Linked DNA regions of Homo sapiens: region 1 is linked to region 2. Evidence: fine-mapped expression QTL. A gene starts in region 2. The other region holds a variant in brackets. All regions are shown on one strand. Distances are between the middles of the regions. Region 1 overlaps CNTN4 (contactin 4). Region 2 holds the start of IL5RA (interleukin 5 receptor subunit alpha).

The links. PIP is the estimated chance that this variant, and not a neighbour inherited with it, causes the effect.
Region 1: its variant is the best candidate, but not a certain one, in a credible set for the expression of IL5RA in whole blood (INTERVAL, PIP 0.65).

What each region holds. Positions count from the first base shown.
Region 1 is chr3:2,918,316-2,923,703 of GRCh38, forward strand. The region is part of intron 12 of CNTN4 (contactin 4); the gene reads left to right. Among named protein-coding and RNA genes, the nearest start is that of CNTN4-AS1, 140 kb to the right of the region's middle. RefSeq lists an enhancer at 3,644-3,693. The variant G/A (reference allele first, on the strand shown) is at 2,510.
Region 2 is chr3:3,107,128-3,112,515 of GRCh38, forward strand. IL5RA (interleukin 5 receptor subunit alpha) reads right to left here and starts at 3,247. Exons shown (of 12, transcript NM_175726.4): 1 at 2,818-3,247; 2 at 1,423-1,564. RefSeq lists a silencer at 2,413-2,532 and an enhancer at 2,613-2,692.

The sequences.
Region 1 (5,388 bases), 190 kb before region 2:
ACTCAAGGTGAAGTTCTTACCTTCTCAGTCCTGGGTCAGCTGTTGGACATACTGGGGAGGAAAGAGGAGACCATGTGCTTCTGCCGAACAAGACCCAAATCTGGGGAAAGCTGAACTTCCAGGGTGCACTTGCCCTGTTACCTTCTCCTAAGTACATGTTGTGGGAAAAGTAGGGAAAGGCGGTTAGCTGCTAGAGCTAGCTCAGCAGCAGGAGCTCATTCTATGTATCTCTTCTCAACCCAGCGTTCAGTGACTTCATGTTGATAGCTTGAAATTGGCCAAGGTAGGAATATTTACACCACAGAAATTGGCAAGGACTACAAACCAAATTCTTTGGTGTTTTATTTTATTGTTTTGTTTTATTTAGAGAGCCACTTGTAAAACATTTACTATCACACCAGTTCAGATGATTTAGTAGTATAAACAGCCCATGTGGTATTTCTTGGATAATTTGTTTCATTAGACTGAGGTACAACTCCAAAGAGGATGTCATGTCCTGTACACAGGACTGGAAGTTCACGAAGCCATTCATAACCCTATATGAAGGGGAGAAAGAGATGTAGTGTTCAGGCAAAGCCTCATGAGACGGGAATTTCCTGTTTTGAACTGAATCCCTGATTTCTTTCCTGCAACATACATTCATTCATCAAATATTGATTATCAACTTTTTTATAATACACAAAAGGGAAAGAGGCTCTTACTTGAATTATGCCAGAAGTCAGACAAAAGAAAGATTGTTGCTTTTTGGCTGGTCATGGTGGCTTACGCCTATAATCCCAGCACTTTGGGAGGCCAAGGCAGTAAGATGACTTGAAGTCAGGAGTTCAAGACCAGCCTGGCCAAGATGGTGAAACCCCATCTCTACTAAAAATACAAAAAAAAAAAAAATTGCCAGGTGTGGTGGCACACATCTGTAGTCCCAGCTACTCAGGAGGCTGAGGCAGGAGAATCACTTGAACCCAGAAGGCGGAGGCTGCAGTGAGCCAAGATTGCACCACTGCACTCCAGCCTGGGTGACAGAGCAAGACTCTGTCTCAGAAAAAAAAAAAAAAAAAAAAAAAACCAGATCGTTGCTTTTTAAAAATTGACTTAATTCTTCAATAGGTTCATTGATTAAATATCAACTTTGTATCAAGCACCGTGCCAGGCCCAAGGGATATACAGATCCAGGATACATATTCTTGCCTTCAAGGAACTGATGTTCTAATAATAGCTAATAACAAGAGCTACTATTTCCTAGCTACTGAAATTCTAGGGTTCTCACTATCATAGTCTAATGACTCTCTTCTGTTCATTTAGCAGACTTCGCATACTGTACACTACCTGCATAACCAAGGACTTGAGTTTGTATAAGAGTTTAAGACACTGACATGTAAATGAAATATCACCAATTTGGACTGATATAAGAAAGTCGATGTGATTACAGAGTGTTTAAAATGCAGACTGTCTTATTATCTTTATATGGATAGGATGGGTCAAAGGAGGTTAACAAGAATTTAGCAGCTGAAGCCCTACTTAAAGCATTATATAAGAATTAATTTTAATCAACATGTTGATTATATAAGAAATAATGTTCTAAAATGTCTTTAAAATATTTTTCTGGGAATAAGAGAAAACCTCCACCTATGTTTATGTAACTGATTTTTGAGTTTTCAAGTCTTTTATAAAAAAAAATAAAAGGCCATACCTAATCCTACTTGTTGGCAGAGAAAGATGAGAGATCTTGAAATGGCTCCCGTGCTCAAAGTATTTGTCAGTTTTCATAGAGCCCGAAGTGCCGATATTGAAGATGTATTTCTTATCCATACCAGCATGTAATACTCAGCAGGAAAAAGGAACAAAAACTCCAAAAGGTCACATACTGTATGATTACACACCACACACACACAGACTCTCTCTCACACACATATGTATCTAAAACATTCTCAGAATGACTAAACTATAGTAATGGGAAGAGGTCAGTGGTTTCCAGGAGTTACAGAGGGGAGGTAGAAGGAGGCTGGATATGACTGTGAAGGGGAAGCAAGAGGAAGATCCTTGTGACAATAGAATAGTTCCCTATCTCAGTTTCCATGGTGCTTTTGCCCAGTCTACATGTGTGATACATACACATTATACCAAGTATCAGTTTCTTTGTTTTTGTATTTAACTGTATCTACATAAGATGTAACCATTGGGGGAGACGGGGTGAAGGATGCACAGGACCTTTCTGTATTATATTTGGTACTTTCTGTGGGTCTATAATTATTTCAAAATAAACATTTTCTGTTTTCAAACAATGATGTGTTTCTCGGACTCTAAGAAAATTTTCAGCAGAAGAAAAGTCCGTGATAATGGTGACTGGGGTAGTGCAGTAGTGGAAATAGCAGTGGAGAGGGGACGTATGAAGTTCTTAATCTGGATCAAATACTGTGCTAAGTACTTTATGTTCAATACATGTATTATTTTATTTAATCCTCAAAATAATCTCATGATTGTAAAATTCTTTTGTTTCATAATAACGCCCAAA[G/A]GAATAGGAGTTTTTAAACCCAAGAGCTGCCCGTGGAAGAAGCATTATTAGAGCCATCAGGAAACAGGGCATTCAGTGAATTAGACCGAAACAATAGAAGGATGGATATTAGGAACACTAGAAGGGGCACATCATGCTAACATCAAAATGGAAAAATCATCTACTTCAGAGTTGTGTTGAGAGTCTCCTTGTGAATATCATTCATAATAAGAGAGCACTGACTTGTTTTTTAAAAGACAGGGTCTCACCGTCACCAAAGCTGCAGTGTAGTGGTGTGAGCCTAGCTCACTGCAGCCTTGAACTCCTGAGTTCAAGTGATCTTCTCACCTCAGCTTTCCAAGAAGCAAGGGCTACAGGCATTCACCACTACACCTGGCTAATGTTTTATTTTTTATAGAGACTGAGTCTCACTGTGTCACCGAGGCTGGTCTTGAACTCCTGGTTTCGAGTGATCCTCCCGCCTTGGCCTCCCAAAGTGCTGGGATTACAGGCGTGAGCCAACACACCTGACCTCAGAGAAGGCTGATTTTTGAATCAGCCATTCTAAAACAGTGGACCTAGAAAGAAGAAATCTTCTACCAGTAGCCTTCTTTCTAGATAGCAATCCAACAGGCCAAAAGAAATTTGGGGTCTCATAATCTGATACCAATATTTTCTCCTCAGTAGTGAAAAGATTTGAATTAATGCATTTACTCTAAGCTTGTTTTTAGGGAATGATGAGGTAATAGTTAAAGAAAGTAGACAACGGTTAAAGTAATAAGAAATGCTGAACTTCCAAAAAAGCTGGCCTTAATATTCTCCATCAACTGGCAGTGTTCCCAGTGATGCTTCTATCACAGACTGTGATAGAACTGGCATTACACAATAATCCTTTCTTCTTCAATAATGTAGTAAGACATCACATCCATATATTTCCCAAATAGGACTGCCACTGCATATCTAGTTAAGGAGCTATCATTCTACTGTTTCTCTTGAGAAATGACACTAAAGCAAAAAACTTTTAAGTTTTTGAGGGGTTCTATTGGCCACTTAAAATACCCTTGATATATGACCAAAATTCATTTAACTAACTAAAAACAAATAGTTGTGAATTACATAGAGGGCTTCTCTCAGCCAGATGCTTCTCATAGATAATCTAATAAAGATCATTGAAAAATAATAAAAAGTTGCATTTCTCACATGGAGGAGGACCCATAATACAGTTCATTCTAATACTGAGGGAGTGGTGCCCTCTAGCAGTGCATGTGAGAAATATTATCATTTAAGTATATTAAATACAGCAAATAAGGAGCTCCCAGTATCTCAGCTACTCTCAGACATAAGGGGCAATTTGACAGTTCTGAGCTACTAGAAACTACTGAAGTTTCACTTCCATGTGCACTAATTTTTTAAGTGCCAGCGAAGGTTAGATTCTAATAGTGCCCTTCTGGGGATTTACCAATAACTTTTAAAACCTCATTACCTGTGAATGTCAAATAGAACAGGTCCCTTTCACTTTTCCTTCAAACCTCCCCTAGGTCAGTGTTTGAGGATGAGAATAAAGGGTACAAATAGGAAAAAGGATCATCCTACAAGCTGAACAGCATCTCTGGTGCAAAAGATGCTCACAAAATGGGAGAATGTTAAGAAATCCATTAATAGCTCAAGTATTCAAAAACTGATGGAGTTCTGACAATTTTCCCTTAAAAGTACCACAGTTTATGGTTACAACTGATAAATTTGCAGGGTTAGATAACTTCAGAAGCTAATTAAGTAAATTGAGTTAACAAAAGAAAAGAACTTGATTTTTTTTTTTTTTTTTTTTTTGAGACGGAGTCTAGCTCTGTCCCCCAGGCTGGAGTGCAGTGGCACGATCTTGGCTCACTGCAATCTCCACCTCCCAGGTTAAAGCGCTTCTTATGCCTCAGCCTCCCCAGTAGTTGGATTACAGAGGTGCAACACCACGCCCAGCTAATTTTGTATTTTTAGTAGAGACGGGGTTTTGCCATGTTGGCCAGGCTGGTCTCGAACTCCTGGCCTCATGTGATCTGCCCACCTCAGCCTCCCAAAGTGCTGGGATTACAGACATGAGCCATCATGCCCGGCCTTGAATTTTTAATTCCATTTTAATTAGTGAAAGATGTTCCAGCCAGTCTTATCTCGATAAGATATCCAAAAGATTATATGCACACCAATAGTACATTACAAATGCTTTTGAAACTGAAAGGTGTGTTTTCTGGTTTCTGTGTGTCTGATATGCTATTTCAAATCCTGTAAAAGCAAAATGTAGTTTTTTGACAAATATGCCCATGTGTTGTGCACAGTTTGATTTATGTAAACTCATTTCAAATGCTACTGCAGAATTTCTCCTGAATGGATGAAAAATGTCCGCCTAAAGTGATAAAATTATATGTGTAGAAAGATACAGTTTTAAGAAGGGATTTTTATATGATACAGATTTGTAACTCTATTTCACAAAATATCATTTAAAAAAAAACTTCAAGAATACCTGACTTTTTTTTTTTACATTTTTCTGTCAGTTCAGGGGTTTGCATTGAGTTTGCTCTGCTGAAACACTTTTCTGTGACTTAGCTTATATGGGATTGGTAAGTAGGGGAATGATGTCAGTATAACATAGACCCTGGATTTGTTCAGGTATTTTACTAAGTAGCAGCAACCAAACACAAAGCCTACGAACACAGATTAACACAGCTAGCCAAGGGAAAATACCTACTGCACATGATTCCCATTCATGCCACATTCTTCCTGTTGGTGCAGTGTGGCCACGTACTCCAACATGGGAGTGCTTATTGCGTAATTCTCAATCTTTCTGCAATTTGCACTTATTTCATAGCTTAGCAATCTCAACTCTTCCTTCTTTCTTCCATCAAGCTACCTTC
Region 2 (5,388 bases):
AAATAGACAGCTTTTTCATGTCTCATTGTCATATTTAAAAAGAGGTGCTTTTGAACAAAATCAGTTGTCCTATAGGCAGCACAAGGTACTCAGTAGGGGTCTAAATATTAAAAAGAATGACATTTTTTTTTTTTTGTGAGTCAGATAAATTTTACATAAGGTTGAATAGTACTAGAGCTTCAGGATTTGATACCATGTTTTCTACAATTCTGCTCACTCTCTGTGGCCCCTTAATACTTCTTGTCCCTGCTTAAAACAACAACAACAACAGCAACAACAAATCTCTTCAGGCCATTTCTTTAATCCAAAGATACACTGTTATGTAGATGTCAACTGGGTCATATTTCACTATAAAAGAATAGAGCGACTTCATTAGCTTAAACATATATATCGACAATATGTTCGACTCATTCTTCTCATGGCTACCAATTAAAATCTAGCAGAAAACCATTAAATTGTTAAAATAAGATGCAAACTAAGCAGAATGAAGCAACTATAGGTTGTTTATCTATCACCAGGAAGACATGCTCAATCTTTAAGAGAAATCATGATCTCATGATCTACTTGCTCATATAACATTTCATTGAGTCAATCTAAAATTCCTCAAGTGCTCTCTAAAAATCTAGTTTCTGATAGGTGTTACATTTTTTGAAATTTTGGAGAAAACAACCACAGTCTCCTTCCCTATAGGTGTTTCTAGGAAGTTTGGTAAAATTTTGACAATTAGCAGTGGATTTCCCCAGCGTTCTTGAGAACTGGTCAAATTCTACTGAAGTTCAGACTTACAAATATTTTCCCCTCTTTTTTTTCCCAACTTATTTTTCTGCCTGGGGCGTTCGTTTTATAACCAAAGTTATACTGGCACCCCTGTTTTTAAAACCTTTTTGAGTCAACTGTGGTAACACCTAATTCCAGACTCAACCTTAGTGGCAGAAATTGTAAAGCAACTGAGAGGATTCATGCTCTGGTAGGCTTTTAAATATGAAGAGTTTACTTTCTCTTTTATCCTGTACAGTATAATCAGCAATAAAAGTTATCTCTTGGGGGATGAAGAATAAACCAAGGTATAAACTGCAAAAGACATGTTTACCTAGGTATATTGCATTACCCCCCAATGAAAAACTGCACATTCCTAAATATATAAATGAATAATAAGGACCACTTATCATGCATGCAATTTTTTTTTACTACTACTGTACTTTTGATTAAATTTCTGAAATAGTCCTAAAATAGAACTCATGAGTTCAGGTTGTGGCTGTAAACATAAAACTCTCTGTCAGTCCAAGTGGAAATGGTGTTGCCACCTTGAGTATTTGGAAAAATAGAAGAAAGAGTTTGCTACAAATATCCCAGTAGCAAAATATTTCCTGCCAATTGCACATGGTGCAATTTGTCATCTCACATCCATGCTCCTGGGCGTACCTGTCTACAGACGATCCTCTTGTTCCGACCAGTACTCAACAGAAGATGGCGAGGACCGTGTCTGTCGTGTCTATGCTCGTGGCTGCAACCCCAGCATCTAGCATAGCGTCAGGCACAGGACCAATGCTCAATGTGCCTGGCCCTGTGTGGAATAGAAGCAAATTAGTGCACAGCCCTAATGTGCAATGTGCGGTGAAACCTAACAGAGGAATGAGTTAGGTCAGGAGAGCAGCAGGCTGGGGAGTGTGTAACAAGCCTGGCCCACTTTTGGTATTTTGCCTAAAAATTTCCCATGCGGTGTTTCAAATAATATAAACAAATGAGGTGATTTAACTTCTAAAACTTTATTTTGCTTTGAAATGCAAACTTTTAACAAATAGCTACATAAATTCCTTTTTCGATAACCATGAAAGAGGACATATTCACTTAAAATAGAAATCATGCCAGGTAATAAAATGTTCAGTATGGTAATTCATTAAAGCAAGTACTAAGTACATTATTCACATGGCTATAAAAGCACCATCACTTTTCATGTGTTTATTAATTTTAGGCTCAAGGGTATTAAAATATTCTCGCTCTGTCTCTCCTTTTTCCCCCTTTTTTTTGGTTCCATTTCATCCTTTTTTCTGTCTACATGGAAATATGCTTACCTTGCTTTAGGTAAATACATTAGTGAACACAAAACCAAGTGACATATTTCAGCAAATTTGGGTACATTTTATATACAATGAAACAATCTTGGAAATCCAAGAACCCCTACCAGAAAGAAAAAGCAGAACGCCTCCTTCAGTTAGATAAAGTGCCTCTCTCTACTTTTTGTTGTTGTTTCTTTATTTGTAGATTTCTTGCTTAACTCTGAAACTTCCTGAGATATTTTATTAAACCCTATACCCTATTTTGGAAGCTCATTTATTTTCTAAGAAATCTTGGCAGAATATATGTTCTCATTTTAATTGCATAATTATCTGGAGCGGTGGAAAACAGATGTCTTATATTGATGTAAGCACTAACAAAACCATAGGTGTTGTTTTCATATGACTCACCTTGCCACGGATTTGCACATCTCACTTACTGAGCCAAAACACAAGAATAGAAGGTTATACCCAGAATCAACATGACCTGCCTAATGATGCAAGTTTAATGGGACCATTATTAGTTCTGTCCCTGCTAATAATAATAGAATTATAAGGAGTTTTGTTTCCCCTTTTTGTTGTTTACAAGTTTGTCATATATTTAGAAGTCATTGTTTCTTGCTTTTCCTAACCCTCCTCCCCACCCTGGGTGTAGTGAAATTATTAGGAGGTGGAGCACAGGGTATTGTTACAGCCCATGTCATAGAAAAAAGATATTTATTTGCTTACTCTGTGGTGAGTGAAGCATTTGATTCCCACTTACTGAGAAATGCGGTGGCCATGCGATGAGAAGCAGCGGCAGGGCATTGAGAACGAACCTTATCTCTGGGTGCACTTTTTAACTTAGAGGCGGTTCTTCACTCTTTCATCATCACGGCTGTAATGGTTAAAAACTCTCAGGCAGCTTCCTTCATGATGGGATGGCAACACGTTTTCTCTAAGCAAATATGGAGGAGGATTTGTACAGAGCAACTGTGCAGGAGCTGAACTGGAACTCCCAACAACCAAACTGCTGTCAAACGAAAGAATCTCTCGTCCAGATAGCCATTATCTGATAACTGTCTTGTCTGCATTTTCACTCTCTTTCAGAGTTGGTTTGCTCTCTTCAGGAGTGGGAATTAACTTTTACTCATGGTGACAAGGTAAACAAGTTTTCCGTGGGTACTCTAAAGCGTTGCATTTCTGTTTTGTTTATGTGCCTTGTTTGGCTACAGTAGTTACTGTGCCTCTGTCTCCTAGGCAACACTGACACATGATTTGATAGGAAGTAAGGCCTGAGGAGTACCCTCTCCCCACTCACTAGGCAATAGCAGCAATTCTCTGCCCTTAGAGAACCGCCTTAGCTCTTCTCTGCTTTGTGAGCAGGTCTGGTACCCTCAAGTAAATATGTGTGGGGGATGCGTTTCTGGGTGTGATAAATTGCTGCTGTCTGTCACCTGAGATCATCCTACACAAATTGTAACAATGGCAGTGTTGGTCTGTGGGTGCACCCAAGACCACCTTCCTCACGTCACATCCATTTTACCACCCAGCTGTCTTCAGAATGCTTCAATTTCAGCAAACCTCCTTGGCTTTTCCTGTCCTTTGTTCCATTTCTGTTTGATTCCTTCTGGGGAATTTCGAGGTGGCTAGCTAGCAAAGCTGGCTTTAAAAAAGTAGCTTAGCGTGTGAATAGATAAGAGTAGTGCTTATTGTATGACCCACGGCAGAGAGTAGTAAGTAGTTGCCTTTGGAAGGAGACCTTCAGTCTAGCCTAAGCGATGAGTGATGCAGGATTCCCTGTCTCCTTAGGAGCTGACTGGGAGAGTCTCAGACAGAGCAGATGCAGAAAGATGGTGGCCCAGGTTGGATCAGTGGTTCTGTTTGTGAGATGAGAGACAGGCTTCCTGGAGGCAATTTCCAAAAGGCTCAGTGTAGAAGCTGTGCAAGTACAGTCAGCGTGTGTGCCTGGGGTTCCCAAGGTGACCATTTTAGCAGTTGCCAAAATGAAACCGGAGCAATTGTTATCAGGTTGAAAATTGTTGTCAGACCTGAAAAATGTGATTTTCCTCGGGGAAAGGGGAAGTAAAACAAGGAACAGAGAGAGATCCATTTATTTGCTAAGAGGCACCCAGAAAAGTTTAGATATAGTATCAACTATCTGGCCTACTCTTTTAAGTCCTGCCCATCTGTTTATACATGTAACATATTTGTCACTAATGAAACCTTAAAAATACTTATTAATCATTGGGAAGACAGTAATTTCTGGCTTAAAAGCCTGCTTTAATGGCCTCTCTCCGTATATATATATGTATATTTTTTGAGATGAAGTCTCACTCTGTCGCCCAGGCTGGAGTGCAGTGGCGCAATCTCTGCTCACTGCAACCTCTGCCTCCCAGGTTCAAGCGATTCTCTTGCCTCAGCCTCCCGAGTAGTTGGGATTACAGGCACCCGCCACCACGCCTGGCTAATTTTTTGTATTTTTGGTAGAGATGGGGTTTCACCATGTTGGCCAGGCTTGTCTCAAATTCCTGACCTCAAGTGATGCACCCGCCTTGGCCTCTTAAAGTTCTGGGATTACAGGTGTGAGCCACCACACTCAGCCAATGGTCTGTATATTTCTTACATTCATTTACTCAAATATTCATTGAATGCACCTATGCACTATGCTAGGCGCGGTGAAGGGTATAAAGAAAATTAGATCTGGCTGCTCCTTCCATACCACCTTCCTGGGTATATGATCTTTAATTAACTACGCCAATAAAAACAAACAAACAAACAAAGCAAACACATGCTCATACAGAAACACTGTCTCTATGTTTCTGTATAAGCACAAACGAAAAAATGAGAGGCAGGGACTTTTTTTTTTTCTGGCGGGGGGTTGCGGGGGGGTTGTTTGTTTGTTTTGAGATGGAATTTCAGTCTTGTTGCCTAGGCTGGAGTGCAATGGCGCGATCTCAGCTCACCACAACCTCCACCTCCCGGGTTCAACCGATTCTCCTGCCTCAGCCTCCTGAGTAGCTGGGATTACAGGCCCCCGCCACCACACCCAGCTAATTTTTTTGTATTTTTAGTAGAGATGGGGTTTCACCACGCTGGTCAGTCTGGTCTTGAACTCCTGACAGGTGATCCACCCACCTCGGCCTCCCAAAGTGCTGGGATTACAGACGTGAGCCACTGAGCGAGGCCTGTTTGGTTTTTTATGGCAATAATTTAATTCTTTATAATAAAGTGTAAACGTCCAAAGACAGTATGATAGAACATGCTGGAAGAATTCACAAAAGTCGTTTTTTTAAAAAGTGAAATTAAATGTGTCTGCATCCTTTAAGCAAAACAATGTGAGTTTAGCCAAATA